Homo sapiens: one gene and its partners. The protein of the gene in region 5 purifies or fractionates together with the protein of the main gene of each other region. This does not show direct contact. Each region holds a gene or a part of one and is shown on either strand. Other genes may lie near its edges.

What was found.
Region 1: the proteins of TFDP2 (region 5) and TPRN purify together in Homo sapiens (affinity purification with mass spectrometry; one large-scale study listed by BioGRID and IntAct). This does not show direct contact.
Region 2: the proteins of TFDP2 (region 5) and ARFIP1 purify together in Homo sapiens (affinity purification with mass spectrometry; one large-scale study listed by BioGRID and IntAct). This does not show direct contact.
Region 3: the proteins of TFDP2 (region 5) and EPHX1 purify together in Homo sapiens (affinity purification with mass spectrometry; one large-scale study listed by BioGRID and IntAct). This does not show direct contact.
Region 4: the proteins of TFDP2 (region 5) and MCIDAS purify together in Homo sapiens (affinity purification with mass spectrometry; one large-scale study listed by BioGRID and IntAct). This does not show direct contact.
Region 6: the proteins of TFDP2 (region 5) and CCNE2 purify together in Homo sapiens (affinity purification with mass spectrometry; one large-scale study listed by BioGRID and IntAct). This does not show direct contact.

Annotation. Positions count from the first base shown.
Region 1 is NC_000009.12:137,193,869-137,199,120, reverse strand, and holds part of TPRN (taperin), read left to right. Parts: coding exon 1-134; intron 135-5,252. UniProt on the Homo sapiens protein: Essential for hearing. Required for maintenance of stereocilia on both inner and outer hair cells. Necessary for the integrity of the stereociliary rootlet.
Region 2 is NC_000004.12:152,883,593-152,889,033, reverse strand, and holds part of ARFIP1 (arfaptin-1), read right to left. Parts: intron 902-5,441; coding exon 727-901; intron 1-726. UniProt on the Homo sapiens protein: Plays a role in controlling biogenesis of secretory granules at the trans-Golgi network. Mechanistically, binds ARF-GTP at the neck of a growing secretory granule precursor and forms a protective scaffold.
Region 3 is NC_000001.11:225,832,882-225,838,322, forward strand, and holds part of EPHX1 (epoxide hydrolase 1), read left to right. Parts: intron 1-5,441. UniProt on the Homo sapiens protein: Biotransformation enzyme that catalyzes the hydrolysis of arene and aliphatic epoxides to less reactive and more water soluble dihydrodiols by the trans addition of water.
Region 4 is NC_000005.10:55,218,440-55,223,006, reverse strand, and holds the end of MCIDAS (multicilin), read left to right. Parts: coding exon 1-56; intron 57-607; coding exon 608-831; intron 832-1,880; coding exon 1,881-1,991; intron 1,992-2,200; coding exon 2,201-2,641; 3' UTR 2,642-3,443; downstream 3,444-4,567. UniProt on the Homo sapiens protein: Transcription regulator specifically required for multiciliate cell differentiation. Acts in a multiprotein complex containing E2F4 and E2F5 that binds and activates genes required for centriole biogenesis.
Region 5 is NC_000003.12:142,141,810-142,147,250, reverse strand, and holds part of TFDP2 (transcription factor Dp-2), read left to right. Parts: intron 1-5,441. UniProt on the Homo sapiens protein: Can stimulate E2F-dependent transcription.
Region 6 is NC_000008.11:94,888,427-94,893,867, reverse strand, and holds part of CCNE2 (G1/S-specific cyclin-E2), read left to right. Parts: intron 1-898; coding exon 899-1,050; intron 1,051-3,317; coding exon 3,318-3,453; intron 3,454-5,441. UniProt on the Homo sapiens protein: Essential for the control of the cell cycle at the late G1 and early S phase.

The DNA of each region.
Region 1 (5,252 bases), on a different chromosome or scaffold from region 5:
AGGAGGAGGCTAGTTGCCTCCTGGGGCCCACGTTGAAGAAGCGCTACCCCACCGTGCATGAGATCGAGGTGATTGGCGGCTACCTGGCCCTGCAGAAGTCCTGCCTCACCAAGGCTGGCTCCTCAAGAAAGAAGGTCAGTGGTGGGGGCAGGGCCACTGGCTGGCAGGGAGAGAGTGACAGCTCACAGAACTGTGGGGGCAGCACCTGCCCTGATCCCAGGACGCTTGGCCTGGGCAAAGGATGGTTTCTACATGGACTTGAGGCGAGCTGGGGCTGGGTGGGCCGTGCTGGGTCCAGGGCCCCAGTGGAGCCCCCTGACTTGGGCCGTGGGGACAGCTGGCCTGCTGTGTGCCTTGCCAGGCTGCTGGAGAGCGACAGGGCAGACAGTGCTATGTCCCTTGCCAGTTGTTGTGGCTCATCTGGAATTAGCTGGGCGGGTCTGTCCCTTTGTGAGTCCAGCTGAAAGAAGCAGACCTGGGCTTGTGGGTTCCTCCCTGGGCTTGGCTTTGAGGGGTGGCCTCACATGGTCTCCTGGAGGCCCGCTGCATGGGCGCCAGGCGCCACGCTATGAATGGGAAGGGCCAGATGATCGGGGTTGGCTGGATCCTCGCATCACAGTCAGCCTTGGGGTGCAGCCCACCAGCCAGTTGGGAGAGGGCCATCAGCTCCCCAGAAGGCACACTGGTTGGGAGCTGGGCAGGAGTGCCGTGTATGCCTGTTCTGGGCCTGGGAAGCTTGCTGGGGAGAAGGGGCCTTCGGAGGCTCTGAGCCAGCCAGGCAGGGGAGTCTCCCTCTTGGCCAGTGGCCTGGAATCCTCTGGGCACAGGAAAAAAAATCTTCAGATTCTTTCTGGTAATTCCTGCACCTGTATTTGTTCCCTGGGGCAAATTCCAAGGGCAGCTCCATGTGACTTCCCGGTCTGCGGTGACCTGTCAGGAAGCAGGTGTACCTTTCCTGGGGACTGAGGGGGGGCGCCTGGGGCGCCTCCCTTGGGTCTTCCTATCCAGGCACTGCCCCAGAGCCATTGCTGGCTAGGCTCACCCCTGAGGCGGGCTGTCCTCCAGCCTCAGTTTCCCCAGGCTGGGGATGGGACCTTGCAGGCTCCCTCAGCAGATAGGCTGCTGCCTCCCTCTGTTTGCTTCCTGCCCGGGATTGGCCTTGGCATTGCGCCTCTCCCTGTGCCATACTCCCCTCCTGGAACCAGGGCGTTGGTGCCCCTGCCGGCTCTATCTGCCGGCCCAGGCATCCGTGCTAACCCTCCTGAGGTGCTTCCAGTGGGGGCTTGGGGCTGGGTCCAGGGCCCCTCCCACTCCTGGAGCCACGTGGGTCTATCTCCCCGACCCTCGCCCGAGCATCACCCCAGCCCATCAAGGTGGGGTCAGTCTGATAGCCACAGCCTCTCTCCTCCAGCTCCTGTCTGCCTCTCCCTCCCCTGCGTCTGTACCTTTGGCCCTGGCTGCTGTGTGAGGTGGGCACCTCCTGGGCTTGCCCCAGAGGTGGCAGTGGGGACAGCTCCCCCTTTGTAGAGAGAAACTGCGCCTCAGCTTGGGAGTCAGACGGGGTCATGGGGCTTGTGGGGCGAGTACGGAGTTCAGGTTTCTGTTTCTAGAACCCCTCCCCTTAACCTGTGTGGCCATCCCTGGGAGCCTGGCTTCTTCCTGGGACTTGAGGCCACTGCCTAGAGTCTGGCCATCTTGCCCTCAGAAGGGACAGAACTGGGCTGGGCGCGGTGGCTCACACCTTGTAATCCCAGCACTTTGGGAGGCCGAGGCGGGTGGATCACGAGGTCAGGAGTTCAAGACAAGCCTTGCCAAGGTGGTGAAACCCCGTCTCTACTAAGAAGATATAAAAAAATTAGCTGGGCGTGGTGGCGGGCGCCTATAATCCCAGCTATTCAGGAGACTGAGGCAGGAGAATTGCTTGAACCCGGGAGGCGGAGCTTGCAGTGAGCCGAGATCGCGCCATTGCACTCCAGCCTGGGCGACAGAGTGAGACTCTGTCTCAAAAAGAAAAAAGCAAAGAAGGGACAGAACTGTGGGGGTCATTTGCGGCTGGGTTAGGGTCAGAAGGGCAGGGTGGGGGCCGGAGGGCCAACAGGAGCAGGAAGATGCAGTGGGGGAGAGGCTGAGCCTGGGAAACAGGCCCTGGACCAGCAGGAGGGAGGAGCTCGGGCCAGCCTGAAGGGGTGGGGGTCCAGATGGACGATACCTGGCATGGCCAGGTGGCCCGGGCAGGGCCCTGCCAGAGCAGCATGACCTGCTGGCTGTGACTTCCCGCCTGGGTACAGGCCAGCTGCCCTGCCTGGGAAGAGCCAGAATGTCCATCAGGAGGGGACAGAGGCGTGGGGCTGCCCTGCCTTTCAGAATGGCTTGCTGGCCTCGGCACGGTGGGCTGTGGGGCAGGGCTGTCCCATGTACTCTGTGGCCCCTGGGCCAGGAGCACTCACTGGTGGGGGTGCGAGGTGCCCCTGCGGGTCCTGTGCCTGGCCTTGTCTGACCACCCTGGCCAGCCTTTTTTTATTTTTTGTTTTTTGAGACAGAGTCTTGCTCTGTCGCCCAGGCTGGAGGGTAGTGGCAGGATCCCGGCTCAGGGCAAACTTCATCTCCCAGGGTTCAAGCGATTCTCCTGCCTCAGCCTCTCAAGTAGCTGGGATTACAGGCGCCTGCCACCATGCCCAGCTAATTATCGTATTTTTAGTAGAGACGAGGTTTTACCATATTGGCCAGGTTGGTCTCGAACTCCTGACCTCAGATGATCCGCCTGCCTTAGCCTCCCAAAGTGCTGGGATTACAGGCGTGAGCCACCGTGCTGACCCCAGCCTTTGGTTGGGACCACTGGCTGTGACCCCCGGGCGTGGGGGTGGAGTGCAGGGATTGCAGGGCCCGGAGTCTAGCAGGACCTGACTGTGGGCCAACGGCTCACTGTGCACCTCAGCGGCTGGCGGTGCTGCTGCTTTTCCTGGGGTACAGGTGAAGGGCAGCTCTTCAGTGGAGTTGTCTGGGTGGTGGGAGTCGGTGAGGGGCCTGCCCCAGGGCTGGCTGTGCCTGCACAGGGTATGATACCCTTGCCCGCCTCCGAGGGGTGCAGCCCTGCTCTGGGCAGTGGGGAGCTGCTGGCCTGTGTGCCGGGGTGGGGGCCTGCCTGGCAGGCACAGGCCCACTTAAGTTATCCATTGGCAGAAGCGGCAGGTGCCCCGTCTTGCAGGGCTGAGCTTGGAGCAGACTGCTGTGTGCTGCAGCCACGCCCGGGCTGCTTTCCTGGAGGGTGGGACACCCATTCTCATCCTCACACCTGCCTCCCTTGAGACTCGGCGCTGTAGCTTTTCCTCTTCGTGGAGCACCACCTGGCCTGGCTCCTACCTGTCTGGCGGCCCCTTCCCGTCCCCTCTGCCCTACTCCCCTCCTCCCCTCTTGGCTCTCTGCCCAGCTGGAGCGTGTCAGTGTCCCCAGGGCTCAGTCCTGGACACCCAGGGCCGTCCGCCCTCACCTGCTGTGCAACTTCCGCCTCCACTCCCAAGGCCTCGCTCTCTGATCCTTAGACCCAAGAGCCACCCTGACATCTGCCCTTCCTACTGACACCACCTCCTGGCCAGCACCAAGCCCCAGGCTGGGCTCCTCCCTGCCTCTACCCCTGTGCAGGCAGATCCTGGGTGGCCAGAGGCTCTCACTGTTGTTGGCTGAGTCCCTTCTTGTCAGTTTTCCTTTCCTTCTCGTCTCTCCGCCAGCTCTTCCCATAGGTGCCGCCTAGGTGGTCCTTCTGAAGCCGGGAACCCCAGGAGCGGCCTGGACGCTCCTCCCTCAGCTTTCTCATGGGTGGAGGCCGTGCCTGGCGCTGGGGCCACACTTGACTCAGGGAGCACCCAGCTTCCCGGGAGCCTGCTCTGGGCATTGCACTCGTGCAGCCTGGTCTAGGGTCCGGCCACCCGTGGGAGCCTTGGCTGGGGCTGCGTGGGGGATGGGAGGCAGGTAGCTGTGTGCAGGGAGGAGGGAGAGGCGGGGCTGGGCTCAGCTCACACCTCCATCTGGGCAGGTTGGGGCTGGCTGCTTGGCCCTTTGTCCCAGGTGGAGGCCAGGCCCTTTGGTAACCAAAGCTAGGTGTGCACAGGCAGGGTGGGTGGAGCGAGAACAGAAGGGTCCTGAGAAGCCGGGAGGCTCTGCTGGGAGGCTGGGCTGAGCTGGGACCCACCTGCCTGCTCTGTTGGCTGTGCCAGGCAAAGTCCCTGATAGGCTGCGGCCAGGTGCGTGCGGTCCCAGACCCTGGCCACACCCTCTGCCCATCCTGCGTCTCGGGGTCTTCAGGCTGCCCACCGTATGAGTCACGGGGTGTCCTGTCCCCACAGTGGGAGGGGAGGGCTGTGCGAGTCAGCAGGCACCAGCCCAGCTGAGGAGACCTGGGGAGGCAGGACGTGACCAGAGCCCCGGGCCCCAGCTGAGGGCAGACAGGGGCTGCCTGTCCACCCCCCGCCCCGCACCGCCTGGCCAGGCTGTACCAGGCTCAGGGCCCATGTGCACCCAGCCCCCGCGGCCCCCCTGCTGGGACCGGTCATGTGCACGAGTGAGGGCACTAATCCCGCGGCCCTGGCAGCCAGCCCTTCTGTGTTCTCAGCCGTGGGGGCTGGGCCTGGAGGGCTTCGGGGTCATCTGGGTTAGCTCCACATATCCAGGGCGACTGGAAACCCCATTTGCTGCTGGACTTCGGGGCTGTGGGAGAGCTCTAGCCACCAGCCCTGTCCTGCCTTGAGCACCTCCACCTGGGGTATCTGTCCCAAAGCATGAGTCTGGGAGGGCCGGGTGACCCCCTCCCCAAGTGGGCTGGCAGTGGGTGGGTGCCTGTGAGGTCTGTCCCAGCCTCTCCCTGCCTGGCCTCCTGTGGGATGAGCGTTGGAGGGCCAGGTGGGCCTAGCCACAGGCAGGGCAGTTAAGGGACAGGAGCGGGTGCTTTCCTCCTTGTTTTGTCTGGCCCAGGTGGCCTCCCCCTCCCCCGCTCATCCATGCAGACGGCTGGGGTGCCGGGGCCTGGGGTAGGGGTGCAAGCAGGCAGCTGAGTTGCCCAGCAGGGCTCTGTGTGAGCTGTGCTGAGAGGGGAAGCTGGGGGTTTGGGCACAAAGCGTGGCCCCCCAGCTGTGGGAGGCGGGGGTATTCGTGGTGAGAAGGGACCTGAGGGTACACCTGGCTGTGTGGGCCGTGTGGCCGCTGTGGGAGAGAGCATGATGGCAAGAGTGTGTGCCCTTGGCCCTGTCCTGGCAGCCCTG
Region 2 (5,441 bases), on a different chromosome or scaffold from region 5:
CCATCTGTTCAGGACTGCACTACACCTATTCCGTACCATGCTCACTCATTTCCCATTTCCAGAACTGCAATCCTGCATACAAAGCTGAATATGCAAGTAATAGAGATATGTCAAACATGAGAAACCATCCTTTTACTTAAACCAAAACACAGGAGCCTATTAGTATATGAATCCACTTCCTGCTGAAACCTACAGCTGGTCCAGTTCAGCCCTCGTTGCTCTAGTCCTTAGATGTGTTCACATATGAAAAAAATGTGGAAAATGGATCTCTTGGCTTCCTTCTCCTAGGTTATGCTAACTGCAGCCCTAAGCTGGACCTTTTAGCTATTTTTCACTTATCAATTGCTGAGAAGAATGCCATAGTTCTTTTCCTGAAATCTGTACCTATCATTAATAGAAAAGCTTCAAAATATTCAGAGCATAATCTATCATTATTTCAATTTTTAAAGCACTTGCTATCAACGCCAATCCAAAGATCAATGGCTGTCCATCAAATACTTTTTGCCATGTGTTATATGTGAAAGACTGGGACGGTGGCATTGATAACTTTTATCAAAGAAAGGTAAATATATTTTGTATGCTTCTAAAAACTCAAACACTGATTACAAATGGAATTCCTTCTTGCAATTGTCATACAAGAGAGTTAACAGAAACAGAAAAACTGACTATCTCTCTTTAGGGTGACTTCAAAGTCCACAGAAAGACCTTAGAAGGTAAAGAATTTACCTTATTTTCTTCTAGAAATTTCAATTTGACAGAAACATCATTGCGCATTTTATCATATTTTTCCTTATGTGCTTGGAAGAGATGCTGTGACTGCTCAATCTTTGGCAGAGTGTTTGCGTCACGTGGTCCAAGATTCAGTTCTTCCAAATCAGTGCGATATGCATCATATTCAATCCTGGAAAGAAGAGAGTAAGTGAAGCATACTACAAGAACAGTAAAGTATGTTCAAAAAATGGGTTGGAAATACGTAATATTCAGTCTCATACTATACAATAAAATATATAAAATTCTCACACATATTCTACTTGACGCTTTTGAAATCATTATTTCTTTAAAAACAAAGAGCTATTTAAATAAGAACAAAGCTGCTGGTTAATCTCATTAACTATTTCTCTCAAAGCACAGTATTAACTGACAAGTAAAATTTCCAAAATCTAAAAACCAGTTAAAAAAAATAAATGTCAAAACAAGATCAAGGGTAGAATAAATACCCCAAGTGAATTGCTTAGTACTGATTAGGCAAAGCAGGTAAGGACAGCAGACTCTAGAATGGCATACTAAAACTAACGGAAGTGTAAATGGTTCTGAAAAAAGTCTGGGTTAGCAATGCACAACAAAAATGTAATGTGAGTAACACATGTAATTTAAAATTTTCTAGTAGTTACAATGAAATAATAATTAATTTCACCTGTTATCAATATATTTCATTTTACCCAATATATCTAAAATATTAATCATTGTGGCATGTAATCAATGTAACAGAATTATTCATAGGTACTTTACATTTGGAGAGTGGGTAGTGAGTCTTTGAAATCCACTGTGTATTTTACACTTCTATCCCATCTCAATTCAGACTAGCCACATTTCAAGTGCTCACCAGACATGTGTGGCTACTATACTTGACAACACAACTCTAGATGAATTTCTGTAACATCAGTATTCAGAATGTAACAACAGTATCTATTGTAGAGCACTTACCATCCTGTGTTCTGTAAGATGCCTCACTCTGATATTCTCCCCCCATCAACTCAAATAGTTACCCCACCACTGTCATCACTCCAAGATCCCATAACTCCTCATAATAGCTCTATCACAGTGCCTGTCTAAGTATAGTACTATCTTGCTTATTAAACAGTGATTTATCCAGCAGCTTCAACTATTCGGTACTCAGCAAAGAAGAAGCAAAGTGACCTCTAATTTAGTCAAGATCAGAATCACAAAGCTTATACCCTAAAACTAAAGCTCTTTATTTGGAGATATTAGGTGTATAATTCACATCTCCTATTCTGGGAATTAACAATACTTTAAATAACATAATCTATATTGTATATATGACTTGAGAAAGAATACATCAGTCCTTCACACTGATCCTAATTTATTCTTAACTCATACTGAATTTAGCAGTATGAGTTAAGATTTAATTTAATTGGCCTCTTTCAGGGTCAAAAGAGAACCATTCATTCATTCACTGATACACTGATTCATTCAACAATTCTCAAGTGAGCACTTTCCACGTTCCAGGCACTGTGTTAGAAAGTAGAGCTATAAAGATGAACAGATATGTTTATCCTCAAGAAGCTCGCATTCTAGAGGAAGAGAACCTTGTAAACAATTACAACAAAATGAGATAATAAGAACTACCATAAATGAGGGTAAGGTATAATGGAAATCAAGAGGAATAATTATTTAATTAGATATCTGAAAAGGTATCTCAGACAGAATTAAAATACTATAATTAAAATTTGAAGGATGGTAAAAGCTGGCTAGGTGAATTGGGATACAGAAATCAGTAGGATACTCTGATTCTGAAGAGAATAGCATGGACAAAGGCATAGATTTGTAAGATACAATGACACATTTGGGAATTCGGTATGTCAGAATCTGAAGCTGGAACATGACAATGGAAGGAATTAACATTAGACAGGCAGGCAGGATTGAAAGTAAGCAGCCCTACAGGCCATGTTAAAGTGTTTAAATTTAATCCAGTAGGAGAAGTAATGGGAAGCCACTGAAGAATGTTGATCTGACATAAAAATGACATGATTGTATCAGGATAGAAAGATGACCCTGGTGGTAGTGTAAGAGATGGAGGATAGAATAAATGATTAAAAAATCAGGAGCAAGGAAACCTATTAGAAAACGATGGACATATAAGAAATGAGTCACTGAATCAGGACAAAGGCATTGGAGCTAAGGAGACAAATACAAAAGATTTAGGAGGCAAGACTGACTTGGCAATAATAACTAGTTAGTTAAATCCATGGGTTCAGGAGCCAAGCTGAATGACCTCTCTGCCTTTTGGCTCTATTCTTGAGCTGGTTATTTCATCTCTTTGTGCTCCAGTTTTTCAATCTATAAATGTGAACAAAAATCTCCACAAAAACTTCATATAGATAAAACACACAGGATACCTGGTAATAACTGATACCTTTAGAATGCTTATTATTATGGCCAAATTAGAAGAGGGGTATCTAGAAGCAAGCACACTAAAAACAATAGGAAATAAAAGAGAAAAAAGTAGAACTAAATAAATAGTAATACATGGTGATTTAATCTAAGGACAAATATCCTTCAATAGCCTTGGAGCGCATTTCTAAACAACAGTGATTAACTCAAACATATTCAAAGTTATAATACTGACCTTATATTTCTTAATTTTACATTCAGAGTTTGTAGGTGGTACCAAAGTAAAACTTTCCATAATAGCTTCTCTAACAGTGCTCATTACCACCAAGAAGAGAAGCTCACTAAGTTTTCAAAAAGCAACTTCACTTCAAGGTTGCCCGTCTGAACTGAGTCCGTATCAACAAAGTTAGTGACGGTTACTTTATGGCTTATGTAAAACTTCTAGAGAACAGGTGTCCACATCTGAAAAGTCTCGACCACAATTGACTCCCTTGTTGGTGCTGCTGTGGAGAAGTGTTGAATGGGCTGTTACAAGATTTTCTATACATGAAGCACCAGAGGGCTAGGAAATACTTGTACACAATGCATAATAGGGAGGATTAAAAGGCCACTCGGGCATTTGCCTAAATTACCACTTTTTGCACTGATCAAATAGATGACCCTTGCCCTAAAAGTCAGTAAATTCTGGCTTTGACAGAGAAGGAAATTCAGCTACTGAAAAACTTTTAACCTTGGATTCTTTTTGACTATTATCCATCAGTAGGCAAGGTTTTAGTGTTAACAACTAGCCAATTCCACAGCTATTTCATAAACAACAGAAAAGTCAAACCCCAAGCTAAGCTTAATGAATAAGATCATACATTGTAATTTGAATAAAAAAGGATAAATTACGGGATGACATAAAACAAAAACAACATTACTGTTGTTGTTTTTTAAAGTACACACAGAGGCTGTGTAAGGGTTTCCCTTAAGAAACCAGCCACCAAGTACATGTAACTTGATTTATAATTTTGTTCAAAAGTTCCAAATGAACCTATATACTGTATTTTATAATCTGAGATCTTATACCACATTATACTTAGGGCACTAATACTCAGGTATAAGGCCTACTGATAAAATGTGAACCATAGAGAACCAATGGGTTCTTATTTTGCCTTTGAAATTGACTACAAGTGAGCAAACCATTTAACCTCTAGAGTGTTTTCTCCTCTACAAATTAATTATAAACTGTTTAGAAATAAAAGCTGAAGGGAAAGAGATTATTATTAACGAAAATATATTTCAGGATAGGTAGACAATTGCAAAGTAGAGAAACTAGATTCACAAAGTTCTCAACTAGGAGGTGGTGGGGGTATTTTTGGAAGAAAACAATATCCATCTTTAAAACCCATACATGTTAAAACAATCAGAAGGACTAGAAAATATGAATATTTAAAATGATTAGAGATAAAAGAAACAGTACCATTATGAACAAATTAGGACATTATGAACAAGGAACAGAAAAATTTAGAAAAGGATCAAGTAAAACTTATATAAATGAATTTTAAAATTCATATACATAATGAACCCTTTGAAAAATATAATTTCCATGAAAGGATTTACACTGAGACTGAAACACCAATTACTGAGAATGTTATTGAAGAGATTTCCACGGAAGGCTATCTTACTAACAGCTATCCTCACCCTTACCCCTCCATACAACCACAGCTGTTTGACCTTCATTTTCAAGTCAATAAGAATCTCATACTTTAATACTAAATGGAAAATGACAAAATAAACATGGTATGGGACAGAAGCATCTCTTCCTGTGAAAACATCAAAAATTAACTTTTCAAAATGATTTGGGCTTTTACTTAATTGAAGTGTAAGGAAATATATATTTAATAAGCACTCAATTGCAAAAATACTAGATGAGTTTGGAGTTTTTTACAGGTATTTCTCATACCATTAAACTAGGATAAGAGGCCAAAGAGTAAAGTTATCCTTCTAAAAGGTAAAGTTTATCTTCAACTATGCATAAAAAGTATAATGGAAAATAAGAATTTTGAGTGCTCAAAAGAAAAAAACCTCAAAAGGGACTAGAATGATACTTAAATAAAAGGGGTAGGGCATATGGGGAAAAAATTGGGCCTGGAATCAAAAGGTGAAAAAGGCTATTATAGGTCTGCCATATTTTAGACCCTTCAAAATATTTATTAATATATTTATTAATATATATTTTGTTCACCATTTAACAGGATAGTTATGAGACAGGGAAACTGTATATATACATATATATATGAATATGGATATACAAAAACCCATTAAAA
Region 3 (5,441 bases), on a different chromosome or scaffold from region 5:
CCATTTTTTGGGTGTTTTATTAGGGTTTAGGAGTTCTCTATATATTCTGAATAAAATCTCTTATATTTGCAAATGTTTTCTCCCACTCTGTGGGTTGCCATACAATTAATCTTTTTCAGAGACAAGGTCTTGCTGTGTTGCTCAGGCTGGAGTGCAGCGGCTATTCACAGGCGTGATCATGGCTCACCACAGCCTCGAACTCCTGGGCTCAAGCAATCCTCTCGCCTCAGACCTCCTGAATAGCTGGTACTATAGGCGAGCACCACTGTGCCCAGCTTGTTAATTTTTTATATTGAAGAAATTGTACATGTTAGGAATCTTATTTTTAATGTTTTAAGATAATTTGGCCTTTTCAAGGAACAGTGAAGATTTTAATTTGTTAAAATTCTAGGAATTACTTAAAGTGTATGAAAGACATGTTGGTCAGTCAGATAAACTAAAGTTCCTAAAAAAAGGAAATTGAAATTATAGTGTTAACTGGGTGTGGTGGCATGCACCTGTAGTCCCAGCTACTCAGGAGGCTGAGGCAGGAGGATTGCTTGAGCCCAGGAATTCAAGGCTGCAGTGAGCTACAAGGACACCACTGCACTGGGTGACAGATCAAGACCCCATCTCTTAAAAAAAGAGAGAGAGGCTGGGCACGGTGGCGCACGCCTGTAATCCCAGCACTTTGGGAGGCTGAGGCAGGTGGATCACGAGGTCAGGAGGTTGAGACCATCGTAGCTAACACGGTGAAATCCTGTCTCTAATAAAAATACAAAAAATTAGCCAGGTGTGGTGGCGGGTGCCTGTAGTCCCAGCTACTCGGGAGGATGAGGCAGGAGAATGGCGTGAACCCAGGAGATGGAGCTTGTGGTGAGCTGAGATCACACCACTGCACTCCAGCCTGGGCGACAGAATGAGACTCTGTCTTTAAAAAAAAAAAAAAAAAACAGGCTGGGCGCCGTGGCTCACGCCTGTAATCCCAGCACTTTGGGAGGTCAAGGCGGGCAGATCACAAGGTCAGGAGATCGAGACCATCCTGGTCTAACTTGGTGAAACCCCGTCTCTACTAAAAATACAAAAAATTAGCCGGGCGTGGTGGCAGGCGCCTGTGGTCCCAGCTACTTGGGAGGCTGAGGCAGAAGAATAGCGTGAACCCGGAAGGCGGAGCTTGCAGTGAGCCCAGATTGCGCCACTGCACTCCAGCCTGGGTGACAGGGCAAGACTCTGTCTCAAAAAAAAAAAAAAGAAAAAAAAAAAAAGCCGGGTGCGGTGGCTCACACCTGTAATCCTAGCACTGTGGGAGGCCGAGGCGGGTGGATCCCAAGGTCAAGAGATCGAGACCATCCTGGCCAACATGGTGAAACCCCGTCTCTACTAAAAATACAAAAATTAGCTGGGCATGGTGGCACGTGCCTGTAGTTCCAGCTACTCGGGAGGCTGAGGCAAAAGAATTGCTTGAACCAGGGAGGCGGAGGTTGCAGTGAGCCGAGATCGCGCCACTGCACTCCAGCCTGGCAACAGAGCAAGACTCCATCTCAAAAAAAAAGGGAGAAAGGAAGGATGGACGGAAACCTCGACTTGGAGGTGCCAGGGCAGCAAACATCCTTGTTCTGATGCAAGCAGGCCAGGCCTGTGGGAGAATGAGCCAGAGAAAAGCTAAGTCAAATCCCAGTGGTGTGTGTCCTGGAACTAGAGCCCATCCTGGAGCTCAGCCAAGAACACTAAAAAAAAAAAAAAAAAAAATCTGGAATGATTTTTTGGATCAAATTTGGACTTCTCTTGAGTGTTGCTGTATTCTTTACAGTAATTTGATATCTTCTATTATGAGCCTAACAAGAGGATCCAAGCCACTTAATCCCAGCCAAACTGCTGTATGCAATTACCATAGGTTCCTGTTTGGATTCCTGGCACGAAATTGCCTGGCTTCCTTGAGTTTGACTTGGATCCCTGTGTTGTCCCAGCTCTTCAGTGTCCATCCAGCAGAAACTAACAGGGCGCCTGCTGTACCCAGGCATTCTGCTGGGGCTGGGGACGCATAGAGAGGACAGGGTCCCTCCTTCACAGCTCATAGGCTCTTCAGGGGCAATTCCAGCACATAGTGGCGGTGTTCTGAAGGAGGAGGCTCTGGGAGCTTCATGAGCCCCACAATCTTCCTTTGAATGTGAGGGAAGGCTTCCTGGAGGAGGTGGCATCTAAGCTGAAATGAGTGGGACTTTGCCAGGTGTGTGGGGAAGGTGGTCCAAGAAAGGGGAACAGCATGTTCAAAGGCCCAGAGGCAGGAGGCAGTAAAGGGCCCTTTCCATCCTGGCAGCTGCCAGCCTTACCCCACTGGACCCTTTCAGGGTTCTTCATGAGACTGGGTTTTTTTTAGAGACAGGGTCTCACTCTGTCAGCCAGGCTGGAGTGCAGTGGTGTGATCACAGTTCATTGCAGCCTCAATTTCCTGAGCTCAAGCGATCCTCCCACCTCAGCCTCTCAAGTAGCTGGGACCACAGGTATGCACCACCACACTAGGCTTTTTTTTTTTTTTTTTTTTTTCTTGAGACGGAGTCTCGCTCTGTCACCCAGGCTGGAGTGCAGTGACGCAATCTCGACTCACTGCAAGCTCCGCCTCCCAGGTTCACGCCATTCTCCTGCCTCAGCCTCCCGAGTAGCTGGGACTACAGGCGCCCGCCACCATGCCCAGCTAATTTTTTGTATTTTTAGTAGAGACGGGGTTTCACCGTGTTAGCCAGGATGATCTTGATCGCCTGACCTCGTGATCCACCTGCCTCAGCCTCCCAAAGTGCTGGGATTACAGGTATGAGCCACGGCACCCGGCCTTTGTTTTTTCTTTCCTTTTTTTTTTTTTTTACATTTTTAGTAGAGACAAGGTCTCACCATGTCACCCAGGCTGATCGCAAACTCCTGGGCTCAAGCAATTCTCCCACCTTGGCTTCCCAAAGTATCAGGATTATAGGTGTGAGCCACCACACCCAGCTGACATTGGGCATTTATGGTACAAAACCTCCCTCAGGTACAACGGCTCCAAAAGAGCCAGTTTCCAGCATTGAATTCATCGTGGACTTACCCATGTGTGGTTCTGGCACCCTGCCCGGGGCTGGAGGCCTGTTCTTGGCCTTGGTCCTTTAGAATAGGAGTAAATTTGGCAACATAGGAGGACACCCAGGATACATTGTTAAGTTAAAAAAAAAGAGATTCTAAAATAGAATGTATGTATGGTTCTATTTTTGTTAAAAGTTATGTTCTCTAAGTCTTTTTAAAAAGTTTGAACTGTCACAGCCAAGAAGGGTCTAAAGAGACATGACAGCTCAGTGGTGTGTGAGTCCTGGATGGGATCCTGGAACAGAAAATGGATATCAGGGGAAAAACTGAGGAAATCTGGCTCATATTTTGTTGTGTGTAGATACCAGCATTATCCAGGTTTTAAAAAGGAGAAAATCCTGGCCGGGTGTGGTGGCTCACGCCAGTAATCCCAACACTTTGAGAGGCCAAGGTGGGAGGATGGCTTGAGCCCAGTAGTTTGAGACCAGCCTGGGCAACATAGCGAGACCCCTTCTCTACAAAAAAAAATAACAAAAATAGGCTAGACATGGTGTTGCCCACCTGTAGTCCCAGCTACTTGAGAGGCTGAGGTGGGAGGATCACTTGAGCCTGGGAGGTTGAGGCTGCAGTGAGCCGTGATTGTGCCACTGCACTTCAGCCTGGGCAACACAGTGAGACCTCATCTCTAAAAGAAGAAGAAAAAAAAAGGAAATCCTGCAATGTGTGACAACATGAATAAACTCTGAGGAAATAATGCTAAGTGAAGTAAGCCAGGGACAGGACAAATACCGCATGATTCCACCTATAGAAGGAATCTGAAATAGTCAAACTCAGCAGAAGCAGAGAGGAGAAGGGTGGTTGTCAGGGGCTGGGGAATAGGGGAAACGGCATTGCTGATCGTTGCTGTGTAAAGTTTGAGTCCTGCCAGCCGAATACATCCTAGAGATGGGCTGTACAGCAGAGCGCCGTCAGTGTTGGACACTTACAATCTGTTAAAAGGGTAGGACCCATATTAAGTGTTCTCGCCATATAATAAAAAGTGTAAACACTAAGGAAATCAATGGACTTTATAGTTAATAATATCTCAGTCTGGTTCGTTAATTGTAATAAATGTACCATGCTAACATAAAATATTAATAATGGAGGAAACCCGGTGGGTGTGAGGTATATGGGAGTTTTCTGGATTCTTTGCAGTTTTTCAGCAATCTAAAACTGTTCCAAAATAAAGTTTAGACAGACAACACCATGTTTTCTTTAGAGAGTGGGATTACATGTGAGTCTTCCCCCTTTGGCTTATCTGTGTTTTCTAAGTTTTCTACAGTAAACATGTATTATTTGTATAATATATTAACGACAGAACAGAACATTAGCTAGACCATGCTGACTGCACCAGCCCTGGTGGCAGAGAGTTCCAAGCATGGCAGCCGCCCTCACTGTGAATGCCGTAAGGCCCCAGGTGCTGTCCAGGGCACTGGCCTGGGAAGGGGCTGCCTTCTTTTGATATGCAGAGGCCCCAAGTCAGTCCAGAGGAGACAAGAATCCATTCACCTGCCCTTGGCTATGATGATGTTTTCAGCATTGCACTTAAAAAAAAATCTTCCACTTTATTTTATTTTAATTTTTTGAGATGGAGTCTTGCTCTGTTGCCCAGGCTGGAGTGTGGTGGTGTGATCTCGGCTCAGTGCAACCTCTGCTTCCCAGGTTCAAGCGATTCTCTTGCCTCAGCCTCCCGAGTAGCTGGAATTGCAGGCGCCTGTCAGCATGCCCGGGTAATTTTTTTGTATTTTTAGTAGAGACGGGGTTTCACCATGTTGGCCAGGCTGGTCTTGAGCTCCTGACCTTAGGTGATCCACCCGCCTCAGCCTTCCAAAGTGCTGGGATTACAGGCGTGAGCCACCACACCAGGCCCAAAAATACTCCACTTTAAAGAAAATATCATTTGGTAATCAGAAAAAGGTGACATTTTGTCAATGTGTATGAAAAAAATTATGCATTTAATACCTGTTCATTGTAGAAAAATTGGAAAGTACATAAAACTCAAAGAGAAATTAAAAGCACTGGAATCTACTGCTCAGGAGAACTGCTTTTTACATTCTTGGAGTTTATCCTCCCAGACTTTTAAAATTCACCAATACATAGTATAAGTACAGTATAAGCATAGATGACTTTTTATAAAAACTGGGTCACACAATGGATATGACTTGATCATTTGCTTTTACCTCCCAGCAATATCTTCTGATCAGTTTTCTATGTTAAATAAATATACATCTACCTTGTCAGTTTAGATGACTGTACTGGACTCCAGTATACTGTCAAACTATACTTGATTAATCCTGTATTGCTGGATACGTGGGGCTTTCTCCCTACCCTCCAGATTTTAAATTATTGAACAAGTATTTATGGAGGCCTGC
Region 4 (4,567 bases), on a different chromosome or scaffold from region 5:
GGAAGCAGACTTCAATCTGCAAGATTTCAGAGACACGGTGGATGATCTCATTTCAGGCAAGTGCAGTCTCCTGGCAGTTAAATAACAGCGGGGGTGTCCCCCACTCCCAAATCAGACTAGTTCAGATTTCGTGGTCGTGAAGGTGGTAAACCCAGCCAACTGTCAACGACTCTCCAGCAACTCATCAAAGAGTCAGCCTTTTCCATATTTAGGACATTTCTCTCCCCCGTGGAGAAGTCGAACCGCTGGATCTACATAGCGCTTTATCTGGGATCGGTGTGAGTTCTGGGAGAGGGAGCCCTATGCTGTGGTGTGGCAGGGGAGGTTGAGTGACGAGTGTGCAGGGTATCGAAGGCCTGTGTGACGTGCAGGCCCAGGGAAGTGTTCTTGATTGAATTCAGGTAAACTTAACAGGCATATGTTGGATACCTGCTGTGTATGTACAGGCTATCAGGAAGGGCCTCGTAATCAGGCGTTTAGGAGTAAGGGTGCTTAATTTAATAAAGAAAAATCTCTACATACACCCTACACCCAGAGTGGCATTTTGCTCCTGTAACTAGCTGGGCATGAATTTGAGGCTGCAAATCCAGCTCCTGCTCTTCTCCAGACTCATCCTCTATGATGTCGCCTACCCTGGCCAGCGGAGACTTCCCCTTCTCTCCTTGCGACATATCACCATTCGGGCCCTGCCTCTCCCCGCCACTGGACCCACGGGCCCTGCAGTCACCACCGCTGCGCCCTCCAGACGTGCCCCCGCCTGAGCAATACTGGAAGGAGGTGGCGGACCAGAACCAGAGAGCGTTGGGAGACGCGCTTGTTGAGAATAATCAAGTAGGGACACTGGTCTGGCGACCAGGAATCCTGGGGCAGGGACAGGATATAGAGGGTGGAAGTGGGGTTTGCAAGGGAGAAGATGAGGTCCTGTGAGTCGGAACCAGTGGACTGACTGGTGGTTCACGTAGCTGCCATTGCTCCGGTGGCTCCACCTGTTTCCAAATTGGTTAAGTGGGAATAATTCTACCCCACCTGATTTTTATTTTATTTTATTAATTAATTTTTATTTATTTATTCATTTTTTTTTTGAGACGGAGTCTCGCTCTGTCGCCCAGGCTGGAGTGCAGTGGCATGATCTCGGTTCACTACAACCTCCGCCTCCCAGGCTCAAGCCATTCTCGTGCCTCAGCCTCCCAAGTAGCTGGGATTACAAGCGCATGCCACCATACCTGGCCAATTTTTATATTTTTAGTAGAGACGGGGTTTCACCATGTTGGCCAGGCTGGTCTGGAACTCCTGACCTCGGGTGATCCGTCTGCCTCAACCCCCAAAGTGCTGAGATTATGGGCGTGAGCCACTGCACCTGGCCATTTTATTTATTTTTAAAAATAGTTTTATTTGGGGGGATTTAGAGGTACAAGTGCAGTTGTGTTACATACATATATTGCATAGTGCCTGCCAGATTTTTAATAGGGACGCCAATATTTTTTGAAGGCTTTCTATGTGTCTGGCCCTGGACTTACCAATTTATACTTTTTCTTCCCACTTAATGCTCACAATCATTGAGCTAGATACTCTTACTAGCCCCGTTTTACAAGGAAATCAAGACATAGGATTGTTGAACTTCGGTGACAGAACCTAGATCTGCCTGTTGCCCAAGTCAGTACTCTTTATCAGCACGCTACACCGAGGATTAATGGAGATAAATTTTGTCCAAGTGCTTTGTTTTAAAAAAAAAGTAAATTGATTATTATTCTCACTAGCGTAAATGCCTGTGCGTCCCCAGTTCCTGATGAGACGTCAGGATCTGGGTTTGATTCATGCCAGATATGCAGACGAGACCCAGCACAGTACCTACCCCTGAATGTTTGGGTCTCCTCCTGCAGCTGCACGTGACATTGACCCAGAAACAGGAGGAGATCGCCTCGCTCAAGGAGCGGAACGTGCAGCTGAAGGAACTCGCCAGCCGAACCCGGCACCTGGCCTCGGTGCTGGATGTAAGTGGGGCGCGGGCGTGTGGGAACTGCAGCACGTCGGAACTGAACAGTTCAGTGCATCCCCGCCCAGCATCGGGACCCGTGGGGGCCCGGGAGAGGAGAGTACCGCTGAGTGCGTGGTGCGTAGCGCGCCTAGGTCACCTTTTGCACGCTCCGAACCCGGAGGGTCCGGCAGGCCCCAGGGCGGCGCTCTTCCCTGTCTTTCGTAGAAGCTGATGATCACACAGTCCCGGGATTGTGGGGCGGCGGCCGAGCCCTTCCTGCTCAAGGCGAAGGCCAAAAGGAGCCTGGAGGAGTTGGTCAGCGCTGCGGGGCAGGATTGCGCGGAAGTGGACGCCATCCTGAGGGAGATTTCCGAGCGCTGCGATGAAGCCCTTCAGAGCCGCGATCCCAAGCGGCCCCGACTGCTGCCAGAGCCCGCGAATACTGACACCAGGCCCGGGAACCTGCATGGCGCCTTCCGGGGGCTGCGCACAGACTGCAGCCGGAGCGCGTTGAACCTGAGCCACAGTGAGCTGGAGGAGGGCGGCTCCTTCAGCACCCGCATCCGCAGCCACAGCACCATCCGCACCCTCGCCTTCCCCCAGGGCAATGCCTTCACCATCAGAACAGCCAACGGGGGTTACAAGTTCCGCTGGGTCCCCAGTTGAGCTGTGATGTGGTCCCCCAAAACACTGCCCTGTGTTTCCACTGAAGTGCCTGGGGGCTTCCCAGAACTTTGCCTTCAGGTTGAATGCCACCCTGAAACACTTTTTCAGGAACAAAAGCATCTTGATACCGATGCATTGTAAATTTCTGCTACAAAACATTGTATAGCCCCTCCCCTTGTCACAGTGAAACTCTGTTTATATATGTATATGTCACATATGTCACAGCCAATTTTAAAAGTATTTATTTTTAGCAGCTTTGAATTATGTATTTTTAGAGCAGGGAAGGATTTAGAAACCATAGTTACTTTTATAATTATGTAATGCTCTAATATTATAAGAAGGAAAAGAAGGCTCTAAGAGATTAAGTAATTTCCTGCAATGGGAAACACTGGAACCTTTCAATCACTTTAACTAGTCACTTAAGGACTCTAGGCCCAGAAGCCTGGTTTCTGGGTGAATGTTTTTATACATCACTCAACTTCCCTCGTCCTAAAAGGACACCTAATTTTGTTACTATTGAAAATTTTTATTTTGGTGGCCAGAATACGAAATCGGGAGAGGTAACCCAAACAGTTGTCTTAGGAAAAGGCAGATTCTCAGAGGCAATGGGCTATCAACAAAATAGGTGCTAAGCACATTTGTTTGTAATGATCATTCATATAATTTAGAAGATTTATGGTAACAGTTTATATTCATTATCCATACAGTTCTATTTGTGCAAATAGAATAACCACCTATAAGCAAACAGTGTTAATGAGAAATATATATTGTTTTAAGAAAATAGCATATACCGCATGAAAAAGAGTGTTCCCTTTTTTTTTTTTTTTTTTGCCAGAAATCAAGTGTGGAAGTCTTGATCAAAGTAAAACTACCTATTTGAACTGCACAGATAAAACTGGGGTGCACAATCATATTTTACATTTCTTGGCTTGATTTATATAACTTGTAAGAAAAAGTTAACTATAAAAAGTCAGTGTGCCTTCACTTTGACTTGACTTCTATTCCCTTTTGTCTGGGATTCTTTTTCCTACTCATTTCTGAAATTATATGAGTGGCATATGTCAAGTAGTGATTTGTCCTGACCTTCACAGTTCTTAACATGAAGTCTACTTCTTGCACTTGGCGGCCCAGCTTGGGCACGTTTCCAGCTGTGTTACGCCACACTGCATTGCTGGTTCTGCCCTCTGAGAGGAGATATCAGGTAACAGGTGACTTGGCAGCGTGGCAGAACCTGCTCTTCCAGTTTGTCATGTATGTACTGCTATCTGTATTTAAATAGCCATTTAGAAACCAAAAAAAAAGCTGATAAAATAGACCATATTTCCTCATATTTTGTCTAACAAATGGACTCTTAAAAAGTACAGTGGATGGCCCAGAATTTTTTTTCATCAGCTCAAATATAAAGTTACCACAGTTCGGGATAAGAAAAAACAAAAAATCACTTCCCTCCAACCTCTTAACCTGTCCCCCAAAACAATCAGCTTGTCATGTCTTTTCCTCTCTCCTTAATGAGTATTCTTATAATGCTTTAATAACAAATAACCAAAAAGTTTTCAATATATAGGTTTTTTTCTGTATGTCTTATGACTGGAGTTTTTAAAATTACATTTCTTCCTGCCTTTAAGATTATATCCCTGTAATTGTCATGTTAGCCATTGGTAACTTGAACTGCTTAAGTATCTTTCACTTCTGAGGCAGGGGTTGGGGTGGGAGGTTGGAGGTTGGGGCGTCATCTTGTGGACTAATGGCACAAGTGACTAAATTAGTTAGCAGTAGTAGAATTTACAAATTAGATTCATTTGTTTATTTAACAGATATTTATTGATTATTACCGAGAATCTTAGTAATACAGATACTAAGTAAACAGCAAAATAACAAAACACAAAAATCTTGCCCTCATGGATCTTACTTTCTCCTGGGAAGACA
Region 5 (5,441 bases):
AAATCCTTTCCGTTTTAATCTGGGATACATGACTCTAGGTGTGCGGCATGAATAGATATGAAAGTAGGCTTGTGAACTCTTGGAAATATTATGCAAAATTATGCATATTTGTATATTTTTTGGAGAGACTATTTATAGTGTCATAGTTTCTGAGGCAAAGATATTTGATCAATTCTTTTTTTTTTTTTTTTTGAGACAGGGTTTCTCTATGTTGCTCAGGCTTGTCTGGAACTCCTGGGCTCAAGTGATCCTCCCACCTCACCCTCCCAAGTAGCTGGGGTTATAGGCACACACCTCGCCATGTTTGGACAACTCTAATTTTTATAAAATTATTTCTTTCACTGAACTAGAAATTGTGTCCTCACTGTCTCTTCTGTATTGTGGGTTTTCAACTATTTGAAGATACTTATATTCCACTGAGTGTTAGAAAATATTCTCAGTCTTTAACCTCTGCTAGTGACTTTTGTGTCATTGTTTTCATTCACATCTCCTCACAGAACTCATAGCCCACTTGTGGATTTGTTTAGTTCATCCACATTCTTCTGACAAGCATGGTACCCCAAATTAGGTATTAACTAGTATAGAAGACTAAGTTACCTCTCTAATTTTAAAGCATGTACTTTAAGAGTAGACTTGCTTCTTTGGCAACCACATTACACTGTTACTTTATAATAATTTACTAGTTAAGAAGATTAACTTTGGGGCTAACCTTCCTGTGTTTAGATCCTAGCTCTGCAGTTTATCAGCTGGGTAACCCTGAGTAAGTTATGTAAACACTCTGGGCCTAAGTCTCCTCATCTCTAATATGGGGTTAATAATAGTGTCTATCTTACACAATTCTGAAGATAATTAATATATATATATAAGTCATTTAGAATGGGTTGTGGCATCCCAGTACTATGTATGTATGATACCTATTTTACTATTGGTTTCCTTGTCAACTAAAATTGTTGAATTATTTTGTTCATGCTCTCTCTGTTCTTAAAGTCATACTCTCTCAATTCTTTAATAGAATATTTTTTGGTAGGACTTTACATGTATCTATATTTTTATTTTGTAAGATTGCTTCTAGTCTGTTGACATTAAAAAAATCCTGATTTGGTCATCCAATAAATATCAAATCTATGCATTTGATAAACATACAAGTTTGATAATTTTGGCATTGCTTTCATGCAAATTTTTCACTAAAATGCTGTCTAGGCAGGGCTGAGGTCAGAGTTCTTTACCTGCTAAAGACCTCTCTTAAAGGTGATAAAAAATTTTATTATTAATTCTTTGGTTCAGGTTGGTCACCCAATTAGAAATTCAGCTAATTTTAATCATCATCTACCTCATATGTTTCCAAGTTCTCATAAGGAATATGTGAGGAACTTTGACAGTTGCCTTACTAAAACCCAGATTTTATATGCTTCGTTTTCTTTACCCTATCATTACTTGTCCTTAGTGAAACTATACTATATTCCAGTAGCATATGTTAATTACTACTTTTTTGTCTTTTTTTTCGGAAAAGGATTATTTATTTATTTATTTATTTATTTAGAGACAGAGTCTCTCTCTGTCACCCAGGCTGGAGTGCAGTGGCCTCCTGGATTCAAGCAATTCTCCTTCTCCAGCCTCCCGAGTTGCTGGGTCTGCAGGCGCTTGCCACCATACCCGGCTGATTTTTGTATGAGAAAAGGATTTTTTAATTCAAGTAAAAATGTGGAATGCTTTAAGAATTTGTGTGTCATCATTGCACAGGGGCCATGCTAATCTCTGATTTGTTCCCGTTTAGTATATGTGCTACTAAGGGAGCACTGATTACTACTTTTTCTAAGTGTTCACAAACTTCTCTTAGTAATGATGCTAGAATCATGTCTAAAATTACATCTAACTTCAGTGATCAATAGTTGGCAGGATCCCATTTCTCTTTTTTTGAACACGAGTACTACATTTTTCTGTCTTTAGTCTTCTGGCAACCTCTCCTGCTCACCATAGTTCCTAAATGATTGCCAACAGCTGTGTGGAATTTTATTTGGAGCAATATACCTTGTTGAAGGTTTACTTAGAGTAGTTAGGAACTGTCTTTTATCTTCATGTTCATATTGAGCTTTCATTTCCTCCAGTTCATTGATAAATTTATTAAATGCCCATTTTGCACAAGATATCAATGCTTGTTTTACTTGAGCCATCGGAAGAGAATTTTTCTTAATAAAAATGCCTGAAGCAAAAAGGTAATGTACATCTATTTCTCTCCATTCCTCCTATTGTTAATATTACCGTAGTCTGCCACCATTCCTTCTTTAGTGTACTGCAGTAATAGCTTCCTGTTAACCTTCCTTCTTCCAGTCCTTTTCTGTCTCTGGTCCTTATGTATGGCAGCCAAAGTTATCTTTGTTTTAAAAATGCATGTATGTTTTAAAAGTCGTTTCTGGGAGGTGCAGTGACTCACGCCTATAATCCCAGTGCTTTGGGAGGCCGAGGTGGGCGGATTGCTGAGCCCAGGAGCTCAAGACCAGCCTGGGCAACATGGTGAAACCTGTCTCTACTAAAAATACAAAAAGTAGTCAGGCTTGGTGGCATGTGCCTATAGTCCCAGGTACTCAGGAGGCTGAGGTGGGAGGATCTCTTGAGCCCAGGAAGTCAAGGCTGCATTGAGCTGTGATCGTGCCACTGCACTCCAGCCTGGGCAACAGAGTGAGACCCTATCTCTAAATAAATAAATAAATAAATAGGAATAAATAAATAACTAAGTATTTTCTTTCCTAGTGGCATAAGCTGTAATCTAATTAGAATTTGATTTCTGAGCATAGTACTTTCCAACTCCCTTTTTCTGTTTCCTCTTTACTGTCCTTTTAAATTCAAACCCCTCCACCCCTGCTGCCCCGCTTTTTTTTTTTTTGAGACAGAGCCTTGCTCTATTGCCCAGGCTGGCAGTGGTGCAATCTCGGCTCACTGCAACCTCCACCTCCTGGGTTCAAGTGATTCTTGTGCCTCAACCTCCCAAGTAGCTGGGATTATAGGCATGTGCCACCACACCTGGCTAATTTTTGTATTTTTAATAGAGACAGGGTTTTGCCATTTTGGCCAGGATGGTCTTGAACTCCTAACCTCAAGCAATCCACCTCTCTTGGCCTCCCAAAGTGCTGGGATTACAGATGTGAGCCATCGTGCCTGGCCATAGATCTCATTCTTTTTTATGGCCAAATAGTACTTCATTGTATGTATGTACCACATTTTCTTTATTCATTCATCTGTTAACGAACACTTAGGTTGCTTCCAAATCTTAGCTATTGTAAACAGTGCTGCAACAAACATAGGAATGCAGATATCTCTTCAATATACTGATTTCCTTTCTTTTGGCTATATACCCAGCAGTGGGATTGCTGGATCATATGGTAGCTCAATTTTTAGTGTTTTGAGGAACGTCCAAATTGTTCTCTGTAGTGGTTGTACTAATTTACGTTCCCATCAACAGTTTGAGAAGGTTCCCTTCTCTGCACATCCCCACCAGTATTTGTTACTGTCTGTCTTTTGGATATAAGCCATTTTAACTGGGGTGAAATGATAGCTCATTGTAGTTTTGATATGCATTTCTTCGATGATCAGCAATGTTGAGCACCTTTTCGAATGACTATTTGCCATTTGTATGTCTTCTATTGAGAAATGTCTATTCAGATCTTTTGCTCATTTTTTAATGGGATTATTTGATTTTTTTCCTAGAGTTGCTTGAGCTCTTTATATATTCTGGTTATAAATCTCTTGTCAGATAGGTAGTTTGCAAATGTTTTCTCCCATTCTTTGGGTTGTCTCTTCACTTTGTTGATTGTATCCTTTGCTGTGCAGAAACTTTTTACTTGATGTGATCCCATTTGTTTATTTTTGCTTTGGTTGCCTGTGCTTGTGGGGTACTGCTCAAGAAATTCTTGCCCAGACCAATGTCCTGGAGATTTTCCCCAATATTTTCTTCTAGTAGTTTCACAGTTTAAGGTCTTAGATTTAAGTCTTTAATCCATTTTGATTTGATTTTTTTTTTTAGACAGGGTCTTGCTCTGTTGCCCAGGCTGGAGTGCAGTGGCTTGATACCAGCTCACTGCAACCTCAGCCTCCCAGGTTCAAGCAGTTCTTGTGCCTCAGCCACCCAAGTAGCTGGGACTACAGGCATGTGCCACCATGCCTGGCTAATTTTTGTATTTTTAGTAGAGATGGGGTTTCACCATGTTGGCCAGACTGGTCTTGAACTCCTGACCTCAAGTGATCTGCTCGCCTTGGCCTCCCAAAGTGCTGGGATTACAGGCGTGAGCCACCTTGCCCAGGCTGATTTGATTTTTGTGTATGGCAAGTGATATGGGTCTGGTTTTTTTCTTCTGCATTTGCATATCCAGTTTTCCCAGCACCATCTATTGAAGAGACTGTCTTTTCCCCAGTGTGTGTTCTTGGCATCTTTGTGGAAAATGAGTTAACTGTAGGTGTGTGGATTTGTTTCTGGATTCTCTGTTCTGTCCATTGGTCTGTGTGTCTGTTTTTATTCCAGTCCCATGCTGTTTTGGTTACTATAGCTCTGTAGTATAATTGAAGTCAGGTAATGTGATTCCTCCAGTTTTGTTCTTTTTGCTCAAGATAGCTTTGGCTATTCTGGGTCTTTTGTGGTTCCATATAAATCTTAGGATGGTTTTTTCTATTTCTGTGAAGCATGTCATTGCCATTTTGATAGGGATTGCCTTGAATCTGTAGATTGCTTTGATAGCAGTATTGACATTTTAACAATATTGATTCTTTCAATCCATGAACATGGAATATTTTTCCATTTTTTTGGTGTCCTCTTCAATTTCTTTGATCAGTGTTTTATAGTTTTCATTACAGAGATCTTTCACTTCTTTGGTTATTACCTAGTTATTCAATTTTATGTGTGGCTGTTGTAAATGGAGTTACTTTTAAAATTTCTTTTTCACATTGTTCACTGTTGGCATATGGAAATGCTACTGATTTTTGTATGTTGATTTTGTATCATGTAACTTTACTGAATTTGTTTATCACTTCTATTAATAATACTTTTCTTGTGGAGTCTTTAGGTTTTTCCAAATATAAAATTGCATCATCTGCAAACAGGGATAATTTGACTTCTTCCTTTCCAATTTGGGTGCCCTTTATATCTTTCTGTTGTCTGATTGCTCTAGATAGGACTTCCAGTACTTTGTTGAATAACAGTAGTGACAGTGGGCATGCTTGTCATGTTTCAGATCTTTGAGGAAAGGCTTTCTAGTTTTTCCCCATTCAGTATGATACTAGCTGTGGGTCTGTCATATATGGCTTTTATTATGTTGGGGTGTGTTCCTTCTATCCCCAGTTTTTTGAGTATCTTAACTTCTTTGCAACATAAATATTTTATTTAAGACCTATATGTCCTTTTGCAACATATTTCATGCTCTTTTGACTTTTTTTTTTTCTTGAGACAGAGTCTT
Region 6 (5,441 bases), on a different chromosome or scaffold from region 5:
GGTTTGGGGGAAAAATGGAGGATAGATGAATAAGAATAGAATTATGTGTTTATTGCTTTGCGATAGATTCCTCTGACACTTTTACTTTTAATGCCCCTAGAGGTCAGCAGGAAGGCGCCTATCTTTGGGTGGTTTCTATGTGCCCGAATCCTACTACAGCTGCAGAATAAGTGCCTTCAAGCAGCTGGTTCCTTTTTGTAAATCCCTCCCTCTTGGAACTGCCTGGTGCACCAGGGCCCGCCTAATCTGTCCAATATACTGCTCTTTGTTCCCTCGCAGACTCTAGTAGACGGTCCTAATAGCTGCTTCTTGGGCATAAATAGGATGTGAGATCACTGACAGCCTGGCACGCAGCCCTTTGGTACCTCTTCTTCCTATGTGTTTTACAGAAAGCAGCACTTTGGAGATAGTGATTGCGTTTGAAACCAGCATTATTGGGAAAAGAATCGTTTAAGTAATCGATTCCATTTTTAAGGTTTTGCTTTCAAATATTCAAAAGTATCAGAGCACACTTTTTTTAAAAAGAGCTTATTTGAAAAAAAAAAAAAAAGGTCCCTGCTACTATTGCTAGATACAGAGAACGATTCTGTGATCTTGAAAGTGATTAGTATTTTAGACTGCAGATGCATTTTGTTATTACTGTCCTTCTTCGACACCTGGTGTCTTCTATTACCAGAATTGCATTTTGTTGTCTAAAACATCCTATTACTCTTTATAAAAATCAATATGAGCTATATGGCTTGTTTATAAAATGTGAATGTCAAATTAGCTATATTGCCATCTATGTTAGCTAAAATTATGATTCTTTAGACATATTAGCTTTCATTTATGAAAGATCCATTACAAAAACTAAGGTTTTCCTTGCACAAATTGATATTTTTCTTTTTTTTTATGACAGAATTGTTGGCCACCTGTATTATCTGGGGGGATCAGTCCTTGCATTATCATTGAAACACCTCACAAAGAAATAGGAACAAGTGATTTCTCCAGATTTACAAATTACAGATTTAAAAATCTTTTTATTAATCCTTCACCTTTGCCTGATTTAAGGTAAGAAAAATTTCAGTAATTTTATTTCAAAGATATAAAGTTGTGCTGATTTAATACATGGCACTATTTTGTCTTTTGCTTTCATAAAGTAGAAAAACGTGTAAAAATTGTTTACTAATATTTAATCATATGTCATTTTATCTGAGAGTAGTGCTGGTTGCAAATGATATGGGTATTTAAAACACTGATTCTATAAAATTATTTTCATTTGCTTGCTGAGTACTATAAAGACTTAACAGGACTGAATTAGTTTTTTGTTAAGATAGAAACATTTTTACATGTACAGCTTTTTCCTTTAAAATTTTTATTCGTGTTTCTTGCAGCTTCAACTCAAAGGAAGCTTTTCCAATTGATGTATCAACCCTATTTATTTCTTACCAAACTTAATAAGGTCTATACTTAATTCTTTTTTCTAGTCCATGAGTGTAACTAAGAGGTACAGCTTATACAAAACATGTACTGTATTAATTTATGATTGGCCTTAATAAGCAATTTAATGGAATCAGACACTTAAACTCACCAATCCCCCTTTCCCTGCATTCTGTCCCACCTTACCCACCCCATAGGTGATCCTGCTGTAGATGATCTATTTAGAGGTGATTGAGACTTCTCTTGACTGTGATCACATGCCTTATGTGTTTAACTTTTTTGTATTGCTCTTGAGAAAACATTTTTTTTCACTTTTAATTGCATTTATTTTAGTGCTGAATTTACTCCTGTGCCATAAGTTTTTGTTTCTTCAGTTTCTTCTGGGATATCTTTTTCTTCTGGGCAACCGCCTCTTCTGGTTTAGGAACAATTTGTTCCTTTTCACTAAAGATCATTTCGATGTGGCAGGGAGAGATCACGTGTGAGTTAATCCGACCATGAGCTCTGTAGGTCCGTTGGCACATCGTAGGTGCTTTGTTCACTTGGAGATGCTCAATGACCAGAGAATCTACATCTAAACTCTTAAGTTCAGCATTACTCTCTGCATTTTTAAGCATGTGCAGCAAAAATTCAGCACTCTTTTTGGGCCACCAACCTTGTGTCCAGTCCCACTGCTTGGCCTGGGTACACCTACCAACTCCACCATTGTAATGTCAGAATGGCACATGCTGTTTCTGTAAAGTGACATTTTAAAAATACTTCATGGTGTTTTTTTTTTTTTTTTTTTTTGGAGACAGAGGTTTGCTGTTGTTGCCCAGGCTGGAGTGCAGTGGCACGATCTCGGCTCACTGCAACCTCCACCTCCTGGGTGCAAGTGATTCTCCTGCCTCAGCCTCCTGAGTAGCTGGGATTACAAGCATGCCACCACGCCCAGCTAATTTTTTGTATTTTTAGTGGAGACGGGGTTTCACCATGTTGGCCAGGCTGGTCTCGAACTCCTGACCTTAAGTGATCCACCCACCTTGGCCTCCCAAAGTGCAGGGATTACAGGTGTGAGCCACTGTGCCGGCCACTTTGTGGTTTTTCATATATGCATACCCTTGATAGCCTGGGCAGTTTCACGAGTGTTCTTACAGTGAACACAAAGATTTGAACCTCTTGATTTGCATGATTTTGTGGGGTTTTCCAGGTAAAGTGAATAGCCAGCTATTTTCACAGATTACTTCAGACCACTTATGGGAAAAGCAACGTGGTTATCTTTTAACAGCAACCTTTGTAAAGTATAAATAAGTGGAACTAGAAAGCACTCCCTTGAAATCTGCAGGTTTGGATGATCATAGTCCAGGTTCCCACTGTGTTACTTCAGGCTTCTATTTATTCATGCAAAGGAAATTGTTTCCAAAAATTAAGGCAGAAGTTTTTTTTCTTATTTACTTTAAGAGCTTCTTCCAAGTTCTAATTAAAAGTTGCATTTCAATGTCTGAAAGTTGAATTTTATCTATGTGAAACAGAGTTTGTATATTACATGGATTGCACAATTTAAATTATGTTTTTTAGCCGGGCATGGTGGGTCACGCCTGTAATCCCAGCACTTTGAGAGGCTGAGGCAGGTCGATCACTTGAGGCCAGGAGTTCGAGACTAGCCCAGCCAACATGGTGAAACCCCATCTCTACTAAAAATACAAAAACTAGCCAGGCTTGGTGGCAGGCACCTGTAACTCCCAGCTACTTGGGAGGCTGAGGCACAAGAATCGCTTGAACCCAGGAGGTGGAGATTACAGTGAGCCAAGATTGTGCCGCTGCACTCTAGCCTGGGCCACAGAGCGAGACTCTGTCTCAAAAAAAAAAAAAAAAAAATATATATATATATATATGGTTTTTTTCCTCTCTTTCCATAGCTGGGGATGTTCAAAAGAAGTCTGGCTAAACATGTTAAAAAAGGAGAGCAGATATGTTCATGACAAACATTTTGAAGTTCTGCATTCTGACTTGGAACCACAGATGAGGTCCATACTTCTAGACTGGCTTTTAGAGGTATGTTACAGCAATACAAATTTCCTTTGTCTCTGTATGATGGAAACATATTTAGCTGTAAATGTGCTTTCTATGTACTCTCAAGAGTTTATTGTTCATCCCCAGGAAGCTGTCTTTTTTGAGGTACTTACTGTAGTTGATTGCACCCAAAGTGGAAAGTGACTCTATAAGAGTAAAACCATGACAAAGCTACTACATATAACTAAACCCAATTCAGAATTCCTGTTACCTGTGGATACTGCTGTGTACCAACCACTTTCTGGGTGCCACAGATACTCAAGGTGAATGGAATGTATAGTTGATTAGGTTTTGAATTATGCTATACAAAGTGAAGAACTAGAACTAGGCTTCAGGGCCCTCTGAAGTCTTTTTCTGTATTAACAAAATCATGATGATGAGGAATCCTGATTTCTATATCCTAAACCATAATGAGACTATGGATATCTGGAAGCTCTACGCCCTCTATTGTCCAGATACCTTCTCTTTATTATATTCTTCTATTCTTTTCCGAAATATACCATTAATTTAAAGGAATAGTGATCCTGAAGCCCCTATAGATTTGTGCCAGATTTTTCTCTCTTGTTTAGGTCCATTCCCTTTCCTCTGGATAATAGCTCTAAAAAAGTTTCTAAAATTATTATTAAGGAAATCATTACTTATGTTGATGACAAACTGATTTTTCCTCCAACTCTTGGATATTTGCTCTGTAGTCTGTCTTTAAGACAAGAGATGAAGCATTCTAAGGGAAAAAGACCATAGACTTTTTGGAGGAGGAACACATGGCAGAATAGATCTCAGAAGCTATCAGAACAGTTTTTAAGACTAAAATGTTATCCTTTTGCATCAGGTCATCTTTTTCCTTATTCTGACTAGAAGGAAAGATTGTATTTTAATTGTGGGCACAAGAAGGCATTGGGTTTTGACTTTTTCTGACTGTCTAGTGATCATGGAATCAACTTAAGCACAATTATGTTAATTTTTAATTTGTTTCCTTTTTGTTATACTGATATTCATCCAGTGGTTATCCAATTCAATTTGTTCCTGTTTTTACCTAAATATGATTATGTATGCAACAGCATACAGAATATATCAAATCCAGCAGTGTTAAACTCTATCTTAGTGTATTCTTCAGTCTAGGAATGCAAACTTGATTCAACATTTGAAAATCTATTAATTTATTACCTTAACAGTAAATAAGAAAAATGCTAAGATCTCAATAGATGCAAAAGACATTTTTTGAAATTCGACATTCTTTTTTTTTTTTTTGAGACGGAGCCTCGCTGTTGTCACCCAGGCCAGAATGGAATGGCACGATCTCAGCTCACTGCAACCTCTGCATCTCGCGTTCAAGCGACTCTCTTGTCTCAGCCACCCACATAGCTGGGATTACAGGCGCAGGCCACCACACCTGCTATATTTTGTATTTTTAATAGAGATGCGGTTTCACCCTATTGGCCAAGCTGGTCTTGAACTCCTGACCTCAAGTGATCCGCCCGCCTTGGCCTCCCAAAGTGCTGGGATTACAGATGTGAGCCACCGCACTCGGCCAGCAAAAGAGATTTTCTTAACTCATTATTAGAAACTCATGTGGCCAGGTGTGATGGCTCATACCTGTAATGCCAGCACTTTGGGAGACTGAGGCAGGCAGATCAGTTGAAGCCAGGAGTTTGAGACCAGCCTGGCCAACATGGCAAAATCCCATCTCTACTAAAAATACAAAAAATTAGCTGGGCATGGTGGCACACACCTGTAATCTCAGCTACTCAGGAGGCTGAGGTAGGAGAATCGCCTGAACCTGGGAGGCAGAGGTTGCAGTGAGCCACTGCACTCCAGCCTGGGTGACAAAGTGAGACCCTGTCAAAAAAAAAAAAAACTCTGGTATATATCTCTATTTCCTCACCTCCAAAATGGGGATAATGGTACCTACTTACGGAGTTACTGTGAGAATTAAAATCTTTCCCTAAAAGTGTAGAAATGACAGATACTAT